4 linked regions of the Homo sapiens genome follow. Changing the gene in region 2 together with the main gene of any one other region gives a genetic interaction. Each region holds a gene or a part of one and is shown on either strand. Other genes may lie near its edges.

Region 1 (4,046 bases), on a different chromosome or scaffold from region 2:
TCCTTTTACTTTTGTCCCTACCTGGGATAATCTGCCTCCAAATGTTCACATGACAGCCTCTTTCTCAGCACTCAGATCACTGCTTACACATCATCTCTTTGAGAAGCTTCTCCTGACCACTGTATCGAAAATAGTACCCTGACAATCTCTCCCCAACAAAGACCATTTTCATTCTCTCTTTAATCTCTTGAGCCTTCTTTATTTTCTATATGAACTTAACTCTATCTGAAATTACATTTGTTCCTCTACTTATCTCCTATATCTCCCACTAAATACAACTCCACGAGGGGACGGACTTTGTTTGGGTCACAGCCATATCCTTAAGTAATCAGAATAGCTCTACATCATGGTAGCCACTTAATATATTTGGTAAGTTAAAAAAAAAAAAAGAATCTAATTGATTTGAAGGACTTCTAACTGGAAGAAATTAGGAAAAAATCTTACATATTTATTGCTTATTGGTCTCTTCAAAAAAGCATCTCTAGAAATATGGTCCGCTGTTCTTGCCACATCTTCCAAAAATCGATAATCTAAAAATTTCAAAACAGAAGAATAAACAAGTGACATATACCAATGGCCAGGAAGCCTCAATTTGCTATGCATAAAGTGGCTTACCACTTAGGAGATTCATTTCAGTAAACTGTTGTATTGAAATGTATGCAGTTTTATCTCGAACTCCATTACATGTCAGTTCTGCTTTGTGTTTCTTTACACAGGGCAAACTGAAAAGACAAAGGGGAAGTACTTTTATATTTTAGGGTAAGAAAGGTACAGATACAGGTTAAAAGGTAGGAAGTTACATGTATACCTGCAGGAATATCGCATACAACGTGGACATCTGTACTTTGCTTCTTCTGTACCACAAGTCTCACACCTACAAAAGCCCACATGTAACATTAAATTATCAAATATTAATTGTATTTATTTATAAACTTAGAATTCCCAATCAATTTATAAACTCAGTGACAAGTAACTGATAAAATATTTGATAGCTGTTGAACATCATTTGAAAATTCTTCTCTATGAAACCTTCCCAAAACAACTACATTTCCAATGTTGTTAGTGATATGTAACTCAGGAAAATGTATTAAAATTTTTAAAACCCATCTCGCTTTTGACTTCTTTTTCTACTATAATCAGGGAATGAGATTATTCACTGATATTTTAACTTGTGATTCCTGGAAATGTGGTAATGATTGTATGTGTGTGTATCCAGAAGTCCAATTCATGAGCTATGTTTAGATATTTTTAAAGCACACACCAGACAAAGAATATAAGGCCAAGTGAAATTTAGAGAGTAGTAGTAGCACCCTTTTTCCTGAACTCCACGCCTAATCTAGAATGAGCATCGAAATAATCTAGAAATGCCATGTAACCCATCATCTGTCCTCAACTGCTCTTCTATGCTCCTGGGATACTGACAACCAAACTACAGTTACTTCTATTTAGCCCACTGTGTTCTAGACGGGAATATTCTCAAGAATCTGACTACTCTTATTTCCTTTGTCACATGATCCACACACTAAGGAAATTCAATCAAAAGCAATAAATATTCACAGCACCCATGAAGAAGCTTGATAATTGAGGTCAAGTGTATTTTTGCCTAGTTTTAACTTAATCTACTTTGTCATTGTTAGTTTTATTAGACTTTCTCATCTCTATTCTCTCTCAAAGGAATACCGAGTAAAGAGCATATTAAGTCAAGCCAGATCCAGTTCCAACTGATCTTTTGGTCCCCAGAATTTCCACTTTCCTAACTTGACCATTACCCATTGGACACTACTAATTTCATGTATTTTCACTGAATTTGTTGTGTTGTCATGTACAACACCCTCCACTTCCCAACCCACCCCCGCGAACGCCGTCTGACTCCAGAAACCCAAACTTGTGCTCATTTTTCATTATTCCACCTTCTCCTGATAGTGTGGTTTCCTTCACTCTAGACATGAGGACTCCACAGCTTTATTCCCCTAAATGGAATCCCCCATGCCCTACCTTGACATGGCCAGTTTCCGCTTGCAGCCCACCGGGTGATTTATCGGAGGCTCTTCTTTCACCTTTGTATCATCCACGATTTCTTTCTTCAGGAAATCCTTCTCTTCTTTTACACACTCTCCATGCATCAATTCCTCTTTTATGCATTGACCAACAAACTTCTCCTCCTGTTTTATCTCCAAGTTATCCTTCTCTTCCTTCACTTCTGACCAGTCCATTACCTCTTCCTTTACCTTCTCTTCCTTTACCTCTGGTTCACCCACCTTCGCTTCTTTTACCACTAAACTACTATCCGTCTCCTGCTTCACCTCCAATACGCCTGCGTTCTCATCCTTCACCTCAGGCCTATCCTCCACCTCCTGTTCTACCCACTGGCCAGCCAACCTGCCTTCTGTACCTGGCCAGTCTATAATTTCCTGCTTCACTACCGTTAGGTCCATCGGTATTTCCTCTGGCCTTTGTCCACTTCCTTCCTCTCCATCCCCTATCTCCTTTATCCCTGTCAGCCCTGTCCCCTCCTCTCCGCCGCCGAACTCCTCCGCCCCTGCTAAGTCCCTTACTCCCTCCCTGCCAGGCTCTGGACTTAGCCGCACCCCCTCAGCTACGCTGTGGAGACCTCCCCCAGACTTCCCTTCATTTTCAGCAGCAAACTCCATCAACTCACGATCCTTGGCCTCTGCTGCCACTCTATCCTTCAATGTGGCTGCTGCACACCAATAGGAGGAATTACCGGTCGGAATACCTACGGCGGCCCACGTGTGGAGCCAAGCAGCCACAAACCCGGAATAGCCTGCTTGACGCGACTGCTCGAATCGCCGTAAAGCTACGCTTTTGCGCCTCGCCCCTTCACGACTTGTAGAGCTCTTTACGGCTCTGCGGAGGCCCTGCCGGATTCTCTGGGCGAACAAGCGTAACTGCGTGACTTGCCCGCTGGGGTTCTCGTCTCCTTCCTGGTTTCCACCACCCTCTTCCCTTAGAGAAGCCTCCTGGGCCACTCCCTGGGCCACCCTCCACGCCCTGCTGGGTGTAAAGAGTGTAGGAGACCGGCAGAGGGAGAGAAGCGAAACCCTTACACTCTGGAAGTGGGAAAACCCACCCTAATCTGTGTTAACCATTAAATCCAATCTTGCATGAAAATGGAGGACACACCTGATGTTATTAGGCCTTTCCAAGCTTTAGTTTCTTAAAGCTATAAACTAGGGACCATGGTATTATTAATATAAATCTCCCAGTGTCATTGCAAAGATTATATGAGATCATGCATGGAAATCAACTAGCAGTGACGGACACAAACTCGATATATAACTGGGAATCCTGATGGGCTTCAAACCGCCTGGTTTCCACCACCCCCTTCCCTTAGGGAAGCCTCCTGGGCCACACCCTAGGCCACCCTCCACGCCCTACTGGGTGTAAACAGTGGAGGAGACCGGCAGAGGGAGAGAAGCGAAACCCTTACACTCTGGAAATGGGAAAACCCACCCTTATCTGTGTTAACCATTAAATCCAATCTTGTATGAAAAAGGACACACCTGATGTTACACCTTTGCAAGCTTTAGTTTCTTGAAGCTATAAACTAGGGAGCATGGTATTATTAATATAAATCTCCCAGTGTCATTGCGAAGATAATATGAGATCATGCATAGGAATCAACTGTCAGTGACAGACACAAACTCAGTGTATAACTGGGAATCATGATGGGTTTCAAGTAGGAAAGAGGGCATTAATTTTTCTTTCCATTCTTTCTAAGTAACAGCCTGCGTCAGGCTATTCCCCATTCCCAGCATTCTGCAGGATTCTCTCAGAGAACATCATAAATATATTAGGCGAAAGTGCCTAATGCCCGGTATTGCTGAATAACATTGCATTGTATGAATGTGGCACGTTTTTTCATGCATGTACCAGTTGGTGGGCATTTGGCTTGTTTCCAGTTTGGGCTATTACGAATAATTCTGCTTCCACATTCATATGCAAGTCTTTGTGTGGACATGTTTACATTTCCCGTTAAGTAAATAACTAGGAGTGGAATTGCTGGGCCATATAAATTTATGTTA
Region 2 (3,500 bases):
GTTCAAGACCAGCCTGGCCAACATGGCGAAACCCTGTGTCTACTAAAAATATAAAAATTAGCTGGGCATGGTGGTGGGCACCTGTAATCCCAGCTACTCCAGAGGCTGAGGCGGGAGAGTTGCCTGAACCACTGCACACTAGCCTGTGCAACAGAGCCAGAGCCAGACTCCGTCTCCAAAAAAAAAAAAAAAAAAAAAAAAAAAAATGGTGGACTCCTAAGTTCTCTGCTCATAGGAAGGAGGTTTTTCATGGTCCTGACTTGCCCTAATACTCCTTACTCTTTCTTTTTCTTGGGTATTCCAGCTCGAGCAGCACCTAAAATAGCCAATGGTAAAGCAGCCAGTAGCAGCAGTAGCAGCAGCAGCAGCAGTAGCAGTGATGACTCAGAGGAGGAGAAGGCAGCAGCCACCCCCAAGAAGGTCTGGACCATAACTTCTGTCAGGGCAGAGGTGACCAGGGTGTGATGTGTGTGTGTCTTCCTTCCCTGGCAGGATTGGTTGGGTCAGCATTTTCCTGTGGTAATCAATTTTCTTTCTAATGCAGACTGTACCTAAAAAGCAAGTTGTGGCCAAGGCCCCAGTGAAAGCAGCTACCACCCCTACCCGGAAGAGTTCTAGCAGTGAGGATTCCTCCAGTGACGAGGAAGAGGAGCAAAAAAAACCCATGAAAAATAAACCAGGTGACTGGACATGGGGAGCGAAGCTGTGTGACTGTGGTCAGGGCCCAGCTGCAGTAACCACATGGACCTCTCCATAGAGGTGCATGAGCGTCCTCATGACATGACAGCTAGCTTCTCCGAGCACTAGTGATCCAGGAAAGCAAGGAGAAATCTCCAGTGCCTTGTGTAACCTAGACTCAGAGGTGACACCATGTTCTGTTAGAACTGAGTCATTGATTCTGGCCCATACTCAAGTGAAGGGGAATTAAGCTTCATTTCTACAAGAAAGTAGTATCAAAAAAAGTTGTAGACATATCCTAAAACCATCACACTATCCTTTTTAAACAGGTCCCTACAGTTCAGTCCCCCCGCCTTCTGCTCCCCCACCAAAGAAGTCTCTGGGAACCCAGCCTCCCAAGAAGGCTGTGGAGAAGCAGCAGCCTGTGGAAAGCAGTGAAGACAGCAGTGATGAGTCTGGTGAGTCAGAGGGATGCAGCCTCCCCTCAGCGTGGGTCTGGAGGAGGGGATGAGGAATAAGGGAGAGAGAAAGCCTTCCATCCTTCGGTTGCTTTTTGCTTAAAGCAAGACAGAGCTAAGGCTCTGTGCGTGTCTTTGCATTCTTTTTATTGCTGTCCTGGTTGGGTTGGGACTCTGGACCCAGCATAATGCTACAGGTTCTCCTCAGATTCAAGTTCTGAAGAAGAGAAGAAACCCCCAACTAAGGCAGTAGTCTCTAAAGCAACCACTAAACCACCTCCAGCAAAGAAAGCAGCAGAGAGCTCTTCAGACAGCTCAGGTAAGGCATATGGAGGCCCTCAGTTCAGTGAGATGCTCTCAGGCAGCTGCTAAGGGCTCCCCTGAATCCAATTTGGGGAGCTGTTGATTCCATCCCTTCTGTGTCTAGACTCTGACAGCTCTGAGGATGATGAAGCTCCTTCTAAGCCAGCTGGTACCACCAAGAATTCTTCAAATAAGCCAGCTGTCACCACCAAGTCACCTGCAGTGAAGCCAGCTGCAGCCCCCAAGCAACCTGTGGGCGGTGGCCAGAAGCTTCTGACGAGAAAGGCTGACAGCAGCTCCAGTGAGGAAGAGAGCAGCTCCAGTGAGGAGGAGAAGACAAAGAAGATGGTGGCCACCACTAAGCCCAAGGCGACTGCCAAAGCAGCTCTATCTCTGCCTGCCAAGCAGGCTCCTCAGGGTAGTAGGGACAGCAGCTCTGATTCAGACAGCTCCAGCAGTGAGGAGGAGGAAGAGAAGACATCTAAGTCTGCAGTTAAGAAGAAGCCACAGAAGGTAGCAGGAGGTGCAGCCCCTTCCAAGCCAGCCTCTGCAAAGAAAGGAAAGGCTGAGAGCAGCAACAGTTCTTCTTCTGATGACTCCAGTGAGGAAGAGGAAGAGAAGCTCAAGGGCAAGGGCTCTCCAAGACCACAAGCCCCCAAGGCCAATGGCACCTCTGCACTGACTGCCCAGAATGGAAAAGCAGCTAAGAACAGTGAGGAGGAGGAAGAAGAAAAGAAAAAGGCGGCAGTGGTAGTTTCCAAATCAGGTCTGTACCCAATGAACATGCCCTCTGGGTTTTGTCCCCCCAAATCAGGATGGGATATACTCTTTGAGAGTAGGGTAGTGAGAGGAGGCCCACCACTGGGCTTCCAGTTGTGGAAACTGGGAGGAAGAACAGGAAACTGGTTACCTTTTTTTTTTTTTATTAGAGTCTCACTGTGTCACCCAGACCAGGGTGCAATGGCATGATCACGGCTTGTGCAGCCTTAACCTCATGGACTCAGGTGATCTTTCCACCCCAGCCTCCTGAGTAGCCGGGACTACAAGCATGCACCACCATGTCTGGCTCATTTTTTTAACTTTTTATAGAGACAGAATCTCACTATATTGCCCAGGCTGATCTGAATTTCCTGGGCTCAAGCGATCCTCCTACCTTGGACTCCCAAAATGCTGGGGTTACAGTTGTGAGCCACTGTACTCGGCCTGAGTCTGGCTTTTTGTTTTGTAGGTTCATTAAAGAAGCGGAAGCAGAATGAGGCTGCCAAGGAGGCAGAGACTCCTCAGGCCAAGAAGATAAAGCTTCAGACCCCTAACACATTTCCAAAAAGGAAGAAAGTAAGTTGTCTCACTTTCTTCTCAGGAGCCAGCTCTTTAAAAGTAGAAAAATCTAGGATCATCTTGACAGCTCTGCCTGGCGTGACCTGGTACATGTGCCCATGTGTATCACTCAGGAGAACTGTTACATGACCACTCTGTCTTTAATTTCCTACTTCATTCTTCTGTAGGGAGAAAAAAGGGCATCATCCCCATTCCGAAGGGTCAGGGAGGAGGAAATTGAGGTGGATTCACGAGTTGCGGACAACTCCTTTGATGCCAAGGTGAGAGAGAGATCTGTGCCATTCTTGGGAGGGAGGATGGGTAGTGTCAGAGAGGACAATTCTTGGTTCAGGTTGGTGGGAATCTTCTCTGGGTTCAGGTTTCCTTGAGCAGGGAGTAGAAAGAATAAAGTGACAGGGCTCCAGCATGGTCCTCCTCTGTGTTAATCTCCCTCTCTACTTACCAGCGAGGTGCAGCCGGAGACTGGGGAGAGCGAGCCAATCAGGTTTTGAAGTTCACCAAAGGCAAGTCCTTTCGGCATGAGAAAACCAAGAAGAAGCGGGGCAGCTACCGGGGAGGCTCAATCTCTGTCCAGGTCAATTCTATTAAGTTTGACAGCGAGTGACCTGAGGCCATCTTCGGTGAAGCAAGGGTGATGATCGGAGACTACTTACTTTCTCCAGTGGACCTGGGAACCCTCAGGTCTCTAGGTGAGGGTCTTGATGAGGACAGAAGTTTAGAGTA
Region 3 (3,500 bases), on a different chromosome or scaffold from region 2:
GGCATCTGGTCAGTGTCAGAAAACAACCCCATCCCCCAGCATTCCTCAAACACATGAGGTCAAATGAGGTGAAGAATCAGGACTTCAAGAAGATTCCCTACAGTGTGGACCAAGTATGACTCAGGCCGAGGTGCTCATCAGTAGAGCACGTAAATCCTCCAGAGGGGAGCCATGTTTTCCACAAGAAACAAGACACAAGACTGACTTGACCTAACAAGTCTCAATACACAAAAAAGGATTTAAATCATACAAAATATGTTCTCCAACCACAATGTGACTAAATTAGAAATCAACAAAAAGAAACCTGGGTAATCCCAGATATTTGGAAATTAAACGGCTTACTTCAAAATAGCCCATGGTTCAAAAAATAAAAATAAAACACCCACCTCATGGTACAGGTGGGAGGCTCAGAAGGGAAGACAAATATTTAAGTGAGCTGCATAATGAAACTCTGTAAGGCATTGGGTCTGGAATGTGCCTGCAGCTTGGGAAAGAGTAGAGGCGGCTCTGGAAGGGGCCCCTGCAGAGCTTAAAAACCTCAATGGAGGAATTCTAGAGCCCTGAGGTCCCACAAGTCAACGAGAGGAGGACAAAAAAAAATCAGTAGAAATGTGTGCTCTGGTACAGAGAAAAAAGAAATGACTAATTTCTGAGTGGTTACAGAAAAAAACAGAGCGACAATTAAAAATAATAAACAGTGGGTGGGTGAGTGCAGGGAGTGAGCCATCTTCTCTCAGCTCTTCCAGGCTTGGAGACCTCACTCCTGATCTGTTCCACATTAGCCTGGCCCATCGTCAGGGTGACAGAGACAACTTGCTGTGTGCAGCTCCCTTGCTGGGTGTAGCAGGTGAGATCTCACCTAAATTCTCACCCAAACCTGTGAGGGCTGATTTCCTGTTTATAGGAGAGTAAGGGCTCTGAGGGCTTACAGCACTTGCCAGGCTGTGGAGCTGAAACTTGAACCCAGGCGGTCTGGCTCTAAACAACTGCCAGCCATCCCACCACAATGTGCCGCCTGTGGCAAGGCACCCAAGCCAGGCACTCTCTCATTCCCTGGCCTCGCACAGACTGCTTCCTCTGCCTGGAACACTCTCCCTGCCCATTTCACCTGGCCAACTCTTTCAGCCCATGGCTCAGATGCTGCCACCTCCTGTAAAAGGCCTAGATGCTCTCACCTGTCATGCTGCGCAGCCCAGGCTCACACCCTCTATCTCAACCCCATCGCTCCACACTGCAGGAGCATGTCCATGCTCCACAGAGACAGGACTTCCCTGAGGAACAGCGCCTCAGCAACCCCAGACAAGGGCAGCACCTGGCAGGGTGGGAACTCCAGAGCTTGTGAAAACCACAGGGAATCAATCAGCAGGAGGACCTCAAAAGGCAAACAAGACAGAGACCCTGGAGCTCTGATGGGCAGAGGAGACATGGAGTGAAAGATAGGGAAGGAAGCTGTGTTGAGGCTACCTCTGAGGCTTCTGCACACCTGCAGGCAACACTAGCCCCCAGTCAAGCCCATCCTCAGCCCTGGCTCAGGAACAGGTGTGGGTGGGATGGGCCTGCTCCTTCTAGGCCTCACCTGTGCTGGAGATGCAGCTGCTTCCTCACTGTCTGATTCCTCCTCACTGCTCTCAGAGTCTTCCTGCTTTTCAGCTTTCACCTGGGTGACTGTAGGCCCCGTCTTCCCAGGGAGTACTGGAGCAGTCCCTTGCCCCAAGGACCCCTTGACAGGCACTGAGGCTGCTTTCACCTGGAGGCCTTTCCCCACAGACTTTGCCTGGGATGACAAGGGGAAGAGAGGTGTCTCCAGGAGTCCAAAGGACCACGTAGGGGCGGCCCTGAGGCCCGCCCAGAAAACACAGGCCTCACCTGTCCCACGGTTACTGCAAGACCTGTCTTCTCTTCCTCACTATCTGATTCCTCACTGCTTGAAGAATCCTCTGCTGGTCTCTGGGTGCCCCCAGCCACAGCTGGGGATGAGCCTGCTGGAGAAGTCGCAGTTCCTGCTTTCCGGGGGGCTTGGGTGCCCACTCGCACAGGGGCGACCTTGGCAGATGCAGTGGTATTGGTTTTCTTTGGGCAGGCCTTGGTCTGAGGAATTTTCAGAGCTGGTTTTGCCTGAGGGGACACCAAAGAAAGGCTGGAGAAGGTTCCTGAACTCAGAGTCCCCCATCTGTTCTGCCCCACCAGCCAAAACCCATGCTCTGCCTGAGGGAGCACAGCTCCCCGGGGGTGCTGACTGTGGTGTGGCAGATCAGGCCATGTAGCAGCCTCCTTCCCCAGGCCTCACCTGAGCTGCAGTCATGGCTGCTGGTGCCTCCTCACTGTCCGCACTGTCCGATGACTCCTCGCTGCTCTCCGAGTTGTCCATGGGCTTTTCAGCCTTGACCTGGACGGCTACAGGCCCTGCCTTCTGAGGGGGCCCCTTGGCAGGACTGGAGGTGGGTTTGGCCTGGAGGATGTTCCCCAAGGACTTTTCCTGGAGTGAGATACACAGGATCGGGAGAGGGAGCCCAGGGTAGGTGTGTGCAGACATTAAGAAACTAAGATTGTAGACAGAGTCCCAGTGTGAGGTTGGGAGGCCACAGGCAGCTCCACTCTGAGTGGGGGGGAAAAAGAAAGAGCCTTACAGGAAGGGGCCTCACCTGAGCCGGGGCCACAGCTGTGGGCACCTCTCCATCACTGCTGTCTGATGACTCCTCACTACTGCTCTCTGAGTCCTCCTCCCACTTCCCCACCTGGGCTGAGGGGGTTGCAGGCCCCACCTTCCCGGGTGGCACTGGGCCGGCGCCTTTCCCCAAGGGCCCCATGCCCATGGTAGAGGCAGGTTTCACCTGGGGGCTTTTCCCCAAGGGCTTCACCTGGGAGACACAAAGGACAAGATTAGGGAGGGAGTCCAGAAGGAGAATGTGAGTGAGGGGAGGAGAGCAAACGAAGCCAGCCGCACAGGGCTCTAGGTTCAGAGAGGAAAAGTCAAAACCACAGGAGGTCTTTTGAGGCAGGGCACAGGCCATGCAGGGCGGCTTCCAGCCTCACCTGAGCTGCATTCATGGCTGCCAGTGCCTCTCTGTCACTGTCTGACTCCTCGCTGCTGCTTCTTGAGTCCTCCTCCTGCTTCCCCACCTGGACCTGGGCGGCTGCAGGCCCTGTTTTCCTAGGAGGTGCTGGGGCAGCCCCTTTCCTGGGGGACTCCTTGGCAGGGGCCGAGGCGGCTCTGACCTGGGGGGCCTTCCCTGAAGGCTTCGCCTGGAGTGAGAAACAGGATGAGGGGAGAGCCCAGAGGGTGGACGTGTGGAGACAGGAGCTGGATGTGGCAAAGGTGGCCACACCCATGCAGGTGCTGGGGTTTAGGCATGGGGCTACTCTCCACCCCTCCCCTCTGCCTCACCTGAGCAGGCGCCTCCTCCTCACTGTCCGATTCCTCGCTGCTGCTCTGCGAGTCCTCCTCCCGCTTCCCCGCCTGGGCCTTGGCAACTGCAGGCCCTGTCTTCCCAGGGGGCGCT
Region 4 (3,500 bases), on a different chromosome or scaffold from region 2:
TGACTTATCCAGTGTCTCAGAGAAAAGAATCAGGACAGGTGGGAGGCTGAACCCTAGACATGAGTGACTCCTGAGCCCATGTGCTCCTCTGCCCCAGTCTTTGAGTTGAGGGAGGAGGAACTCTCCAGGGTTGTCCAAAAACAGAGAAGGCTCAAAATGGCAAGAACAGGGGACTGAAAGGCAGACAGGCTTGGATTCCACACCTAACTTGTACCATACTCTGTGATACAGGCTTTGAAAATCGGAACAAAAATTTCTACTTTGCATGACTATTATGAGTATCACTGAGTTGCTGGGTTCAGTGTCTGGTCCAAGCTAGACGTTAAAGATGGCCTGCCCACCTTCCCTGTCACACCCAATCCTGCCTAACACCCACCAATCTTGTTCAAGACCAGGACCAGCTTCTTGTTGCCTTGTGCTCGCAGGACAGCCTCCTCCATTTGGAAGCAGCGGCAGCCTAATGGGTCTCTGGCATCCAGGACTTCCAGAATCACATCAGAGTATTCCACCACCTGCAGGGCAGAGGACCAGGAGATGAGGGCAGGAAAAGGATAGGGTAGCAGTGATGCAGGCCTGTGAAACAAAAATCTCCATCTCAGTCAGGAAAAAACAGAAATGGAGAGGAAAAGGGGCTGGACTGGAACCCTCCCGCAAAAGCCTGAAGAAATGGAACCCTGTACCTTACGGAACTCCTTGTAATAAGCCTTCCTCGTGGCCTCGTCATCCAGCTGAGGAAACATATTTAATTCCTGCAAAACTTCCTCCTAAAGGAGAAAAAAAAAGAGAATGGTCCAGGGGAGGAGGGGGAGAGAGCGAGAAAGAGAAGCAGGGCTTTTTAAACTATAGGAGGCTTAAAAAATCATGTGAGTCCTGGCCATCAGAGAAATGCAAATCAAAACCACAATGAAATACCATCTCAAACCAGTTAGAATGGCGATCATTAAAAAGTCAGGAAACAACAGGTGCTGGAGAGGATGTGAAGAAATAGGAACACTTTTACACTGTTGGTGGGACTGGAAACTAGTTCAACCATTGTGGAAGACAGTGTGGCGATTCCTCAAGGATCTAGAACTAGAAATATCATTTGACCCAGCCACCCCATTACTGGGTATATACCCAAAGGATTATAAATCATGTTACTATAAAGACACATGCACACGTATGTTTATTGCGGCACTATTCACAATAGCAAAGACTTGGAACCAACCCAAATGTCCAACAATGATAGACTGGATTAAGAAAATGTGGCACATATACACAATGGAATACTATGCAGCCATAAAAAATGATGAGTTCATGTCCTTTGTAGGGACATGGATGAAGCTGGAAACCATCATTCTCAGCAAACTATTTCAAGGACAAAAAAACCAAACACCCCATGTTCTCACTCATAGGTGGGAATTGAACAATGAGAACACTTGGACACAGGAAGGGGAACATCACACACCGGGGACTGTTGTAGGGTGGGGGGAGGGCGGAGGGATAGCATTAGGAGATATACCTAATGTAAATGACAAGTTAATGGGTGCAGCACACCAACATGGCACATGGATACATATGTAACAAACCTGCACGTTGTGCACGTGTACCCTAGAACTTAAAGTAAAATAATAATTTAAAAAATAAATCATGTGAGTCTCAGGCCACCAAAAAGTAGCTTTGACCAACCAATAAAGCTGGGAACTGGAAGAAAAATGGACAGAACCCCATGGTTCATGTGTGCGCCTATGTGTATACGTGTGCTCGAGCACCAGGTGGAGACCTGAGTGTGCACATGGGTGTGAAAGGGAGGGATGGAGGAGGGAGGTGTGAAAAAAACAATCTATGAGGGACACAGGATGGGGGAGGCATACACACTGCATATCAGAAAAGGGAGTATGAGCTGGCAAGCGTGTATTCTGTGTGTGAAACAAGAACATCTGCCAAAAAGGCAGCAAGAAGCCCTAGAAGGAAGACAACATCCCCTCACATATGCTCCTCTCTGTCTCTCAATCCTCTCCTCATACTTTCGCTCCCTCTCCCCCAACCCCATCCCCTGGTCACATGTAACTCTCCCAGCCCCCAACTCCGCCACCAGCCCCAGTCTTCAGGCTCAACCTTGGGAGAGAGGAGCTCTCCAGAGGTGTCCAGTCACGGGTAAGGCTCAAAATGGCCCTTTATCTCCCTTTATCCCTCCCTCCCTCCCTTCGTCCGTCCCCATGGTTTTCTATCCTCTCTACACTGATTCCCTTGTTCCCCTCCAACAACTTCACACCTTCTTCCCTTTCACAGAAAAACGGCAAAAGATGCTTTGAGCAAACCTACCCAGGGGCAAGGGCTGCACTCTTACCTTATGCTCAAACTCCTCCTGGCGTCTTAGGACATCCTGACAGTAGCTCTCAATGGTCCTGCGTTTTTGTCTTTCTTGCTCCCGGGCGGCTTGCTGCTTCTCCCTCATCTCCTCAACCTAACAAGTGAACACACACTGGTACTGGAGCTGACTGGGTCTGCAGCCTAAGGGAGGGATGGGTGACAGACAGAGGAAATGGTGCGACATGGCAGAGGTGGCAGGAGCAGGGTCCAGGGAGAGGGAAGATATGACATCAGGAGATGAGGGTTTGAGAAGAAGAAAAAGAGAGATGAAGGGAAGGAAAGAGTTGCAGAGAAAAGAGGGTATAAAAAGCAGAGAGAGAATGTATCCTAGGCAGGCGGAACCACTTAAGACCAGAGATGGAAAGAAGCCAAGGTCCTGGGATGCTTCATCATTTAAAGATAAGGAAGAAGGCTGGGCAGGGTGGCTCACGCCTGTAATCTCAACACTTTGGGAGGCCAAGGCAGGTGGATCACCTGAGGTCAGGAGTTCAAGACCAGCCTGACCAACATGGTGAAACTCCATCTCTACTAAAAATACAAAATTAGCTGGGCGTGGTGGTGCATGCCTGTAATCCCAGCTACTCAGGAGGCTGAGGCAGGAGAATCGCTTGAACCCGGGAGGTAGAGGTTGCAGTGAATCGAGATCACACCACTGCACTCCAGCCGGGACAACAAGGTGAAATTCCATCTCAAAAAAAAAGATAAGAAAGGGGAAAAAGTGGCAAAAGAGACTGTCAGTGGCTAGTCAAAGAAGAAAGACATCCAGGAGAGTGAGATGACAAGAAAGTCCACATGCTTCAAAGAAAGCATAGCCTCAAATGCTGAGCATTCCAATAAGATGAGGGAAGAATACTATTCATGAATGTGATGTCAGGGAAGGCGCTGATGAGGCCAGCAGGGGCAGTGTCAGCAGAGCAGTGGAAGCATAAGCCAGACAGCAATGGACTGGGTGGTGAACAAACGCAGACATAAATCCAGTATCATGGTAACCTCCCTCTCTCCCGGCTTCCACAAATAGCCTCAACAACCCTAACAACTCTTGCCTTTGCCCTTCCATTCAACACTTCTGCGGACCTGGCATTCAAGGCAGGCCCTCTCTCTCCCCACCAAGGCAAAAAGCTTACCCACTTCTTCTTTAATTCAGCCTC

What was found. A genetic interaction does not mean that the proteins touch.
Region 1: changes in NOLC1 (region 2) and ZNHIT6 together harm fitness more than expected from each alone (negative genetic interaction), as found in Homo sapiens cells (one large-scale study listed by BioGRID).
Region 3: changes in NOLC1 (region 2) and TCOF1 together harm fitness more than expected from each alone (negative genetic interaction), as found in Homo sapiens cells (one large-scale study listed by BioGRID).
Region 4: changes in NOLC1 (region 2) and GNL3L together harm fitness more than expected from each alone (negative genetic interaction), as found in Homo sapiens cells (one large-scale study listed by BioGRID).

Annotation. Positions count from the first base shown.
Region 1 is NC_000001.11:85,705,634-85,709,679, forward strand, and holds the start of ZNHIT6 (box C/D snoRNA protein 1), read right to left. Parts: upstream 2,801-4,046; 5' UTR 2,652-2,800; coding exon 1,996-2,651; intron 875-1,995; coding exon 809-874; intron 723-808; coding exon 616-722; intron 531-615; coding exon 445-530; intron 1-444. UniProt on the Homo sapiens protein: Required for box C/D snoRNAs accumulation involved in snoRNA processing, snoRNA transport to the nucleolus and ribosome biogenesis.
Region 2 is NC_000010.11:102,158,889-102,162,388, forward strand, and holds part of NOLC1 (nucleolar and coiled-body phosphoprotein 1), read left to right. Parts: intron 1-304; coding exon 305-420; coding exon of another isoform or gene 421-450; intron 451-544; coding exon 545-680; intron 681-1,007; coding exon 1,008-1,136; intron 1,137-1,344; coding exon 1,345-1,455; intron 1,456-1,563; coding exon 1,564-2,205; intron 2,206-2,667; coding exon 2,668-2,774; intron 2,775-2,944; coding exon 2,945-3,037; intron 3,038-3,222; coding exon 3,223-3,381; 3' UTR 3,382-3,500. UniProt on the Homo sapiens protein: Nucleolar protein that acts as a regulator of RNA polymerase I by connecting RNA polymerase I with enzymes responsible for ribosomal processing and modification.
Region 3 is NC_000005.10:150,374,697-150,378,196, reverse strand, and holds part of TCOF1 (treacle protein), read right to left. Parts: coding exon 3,386-3,500; intron 3,244-3,385; coding exon 3,034-3,243; intron 2,859-3,033; coding exon 2,643-2,858; intron 2,477-2,642; coding exon 2,288-2,476; intron 2,116-2,287; coding exon 1,867-2,115; intron 1,775-1,866; coding exon 1,577-1,774; intron 1-1,576.
Region 4 is NC_000023.11:54,540,219-54,543,718, reverse strand, and holds part of GNL3L (guanine nucleotide-binding protein-like 3-like protein), read right to left. Parts: coding exon 3,477-3,500; intron 2,447-3,476; coding exon 2,330-2,446; intron 765-2,329; coding exon 681-764; intron 513-680; coding exon 377-512; intron 1-376.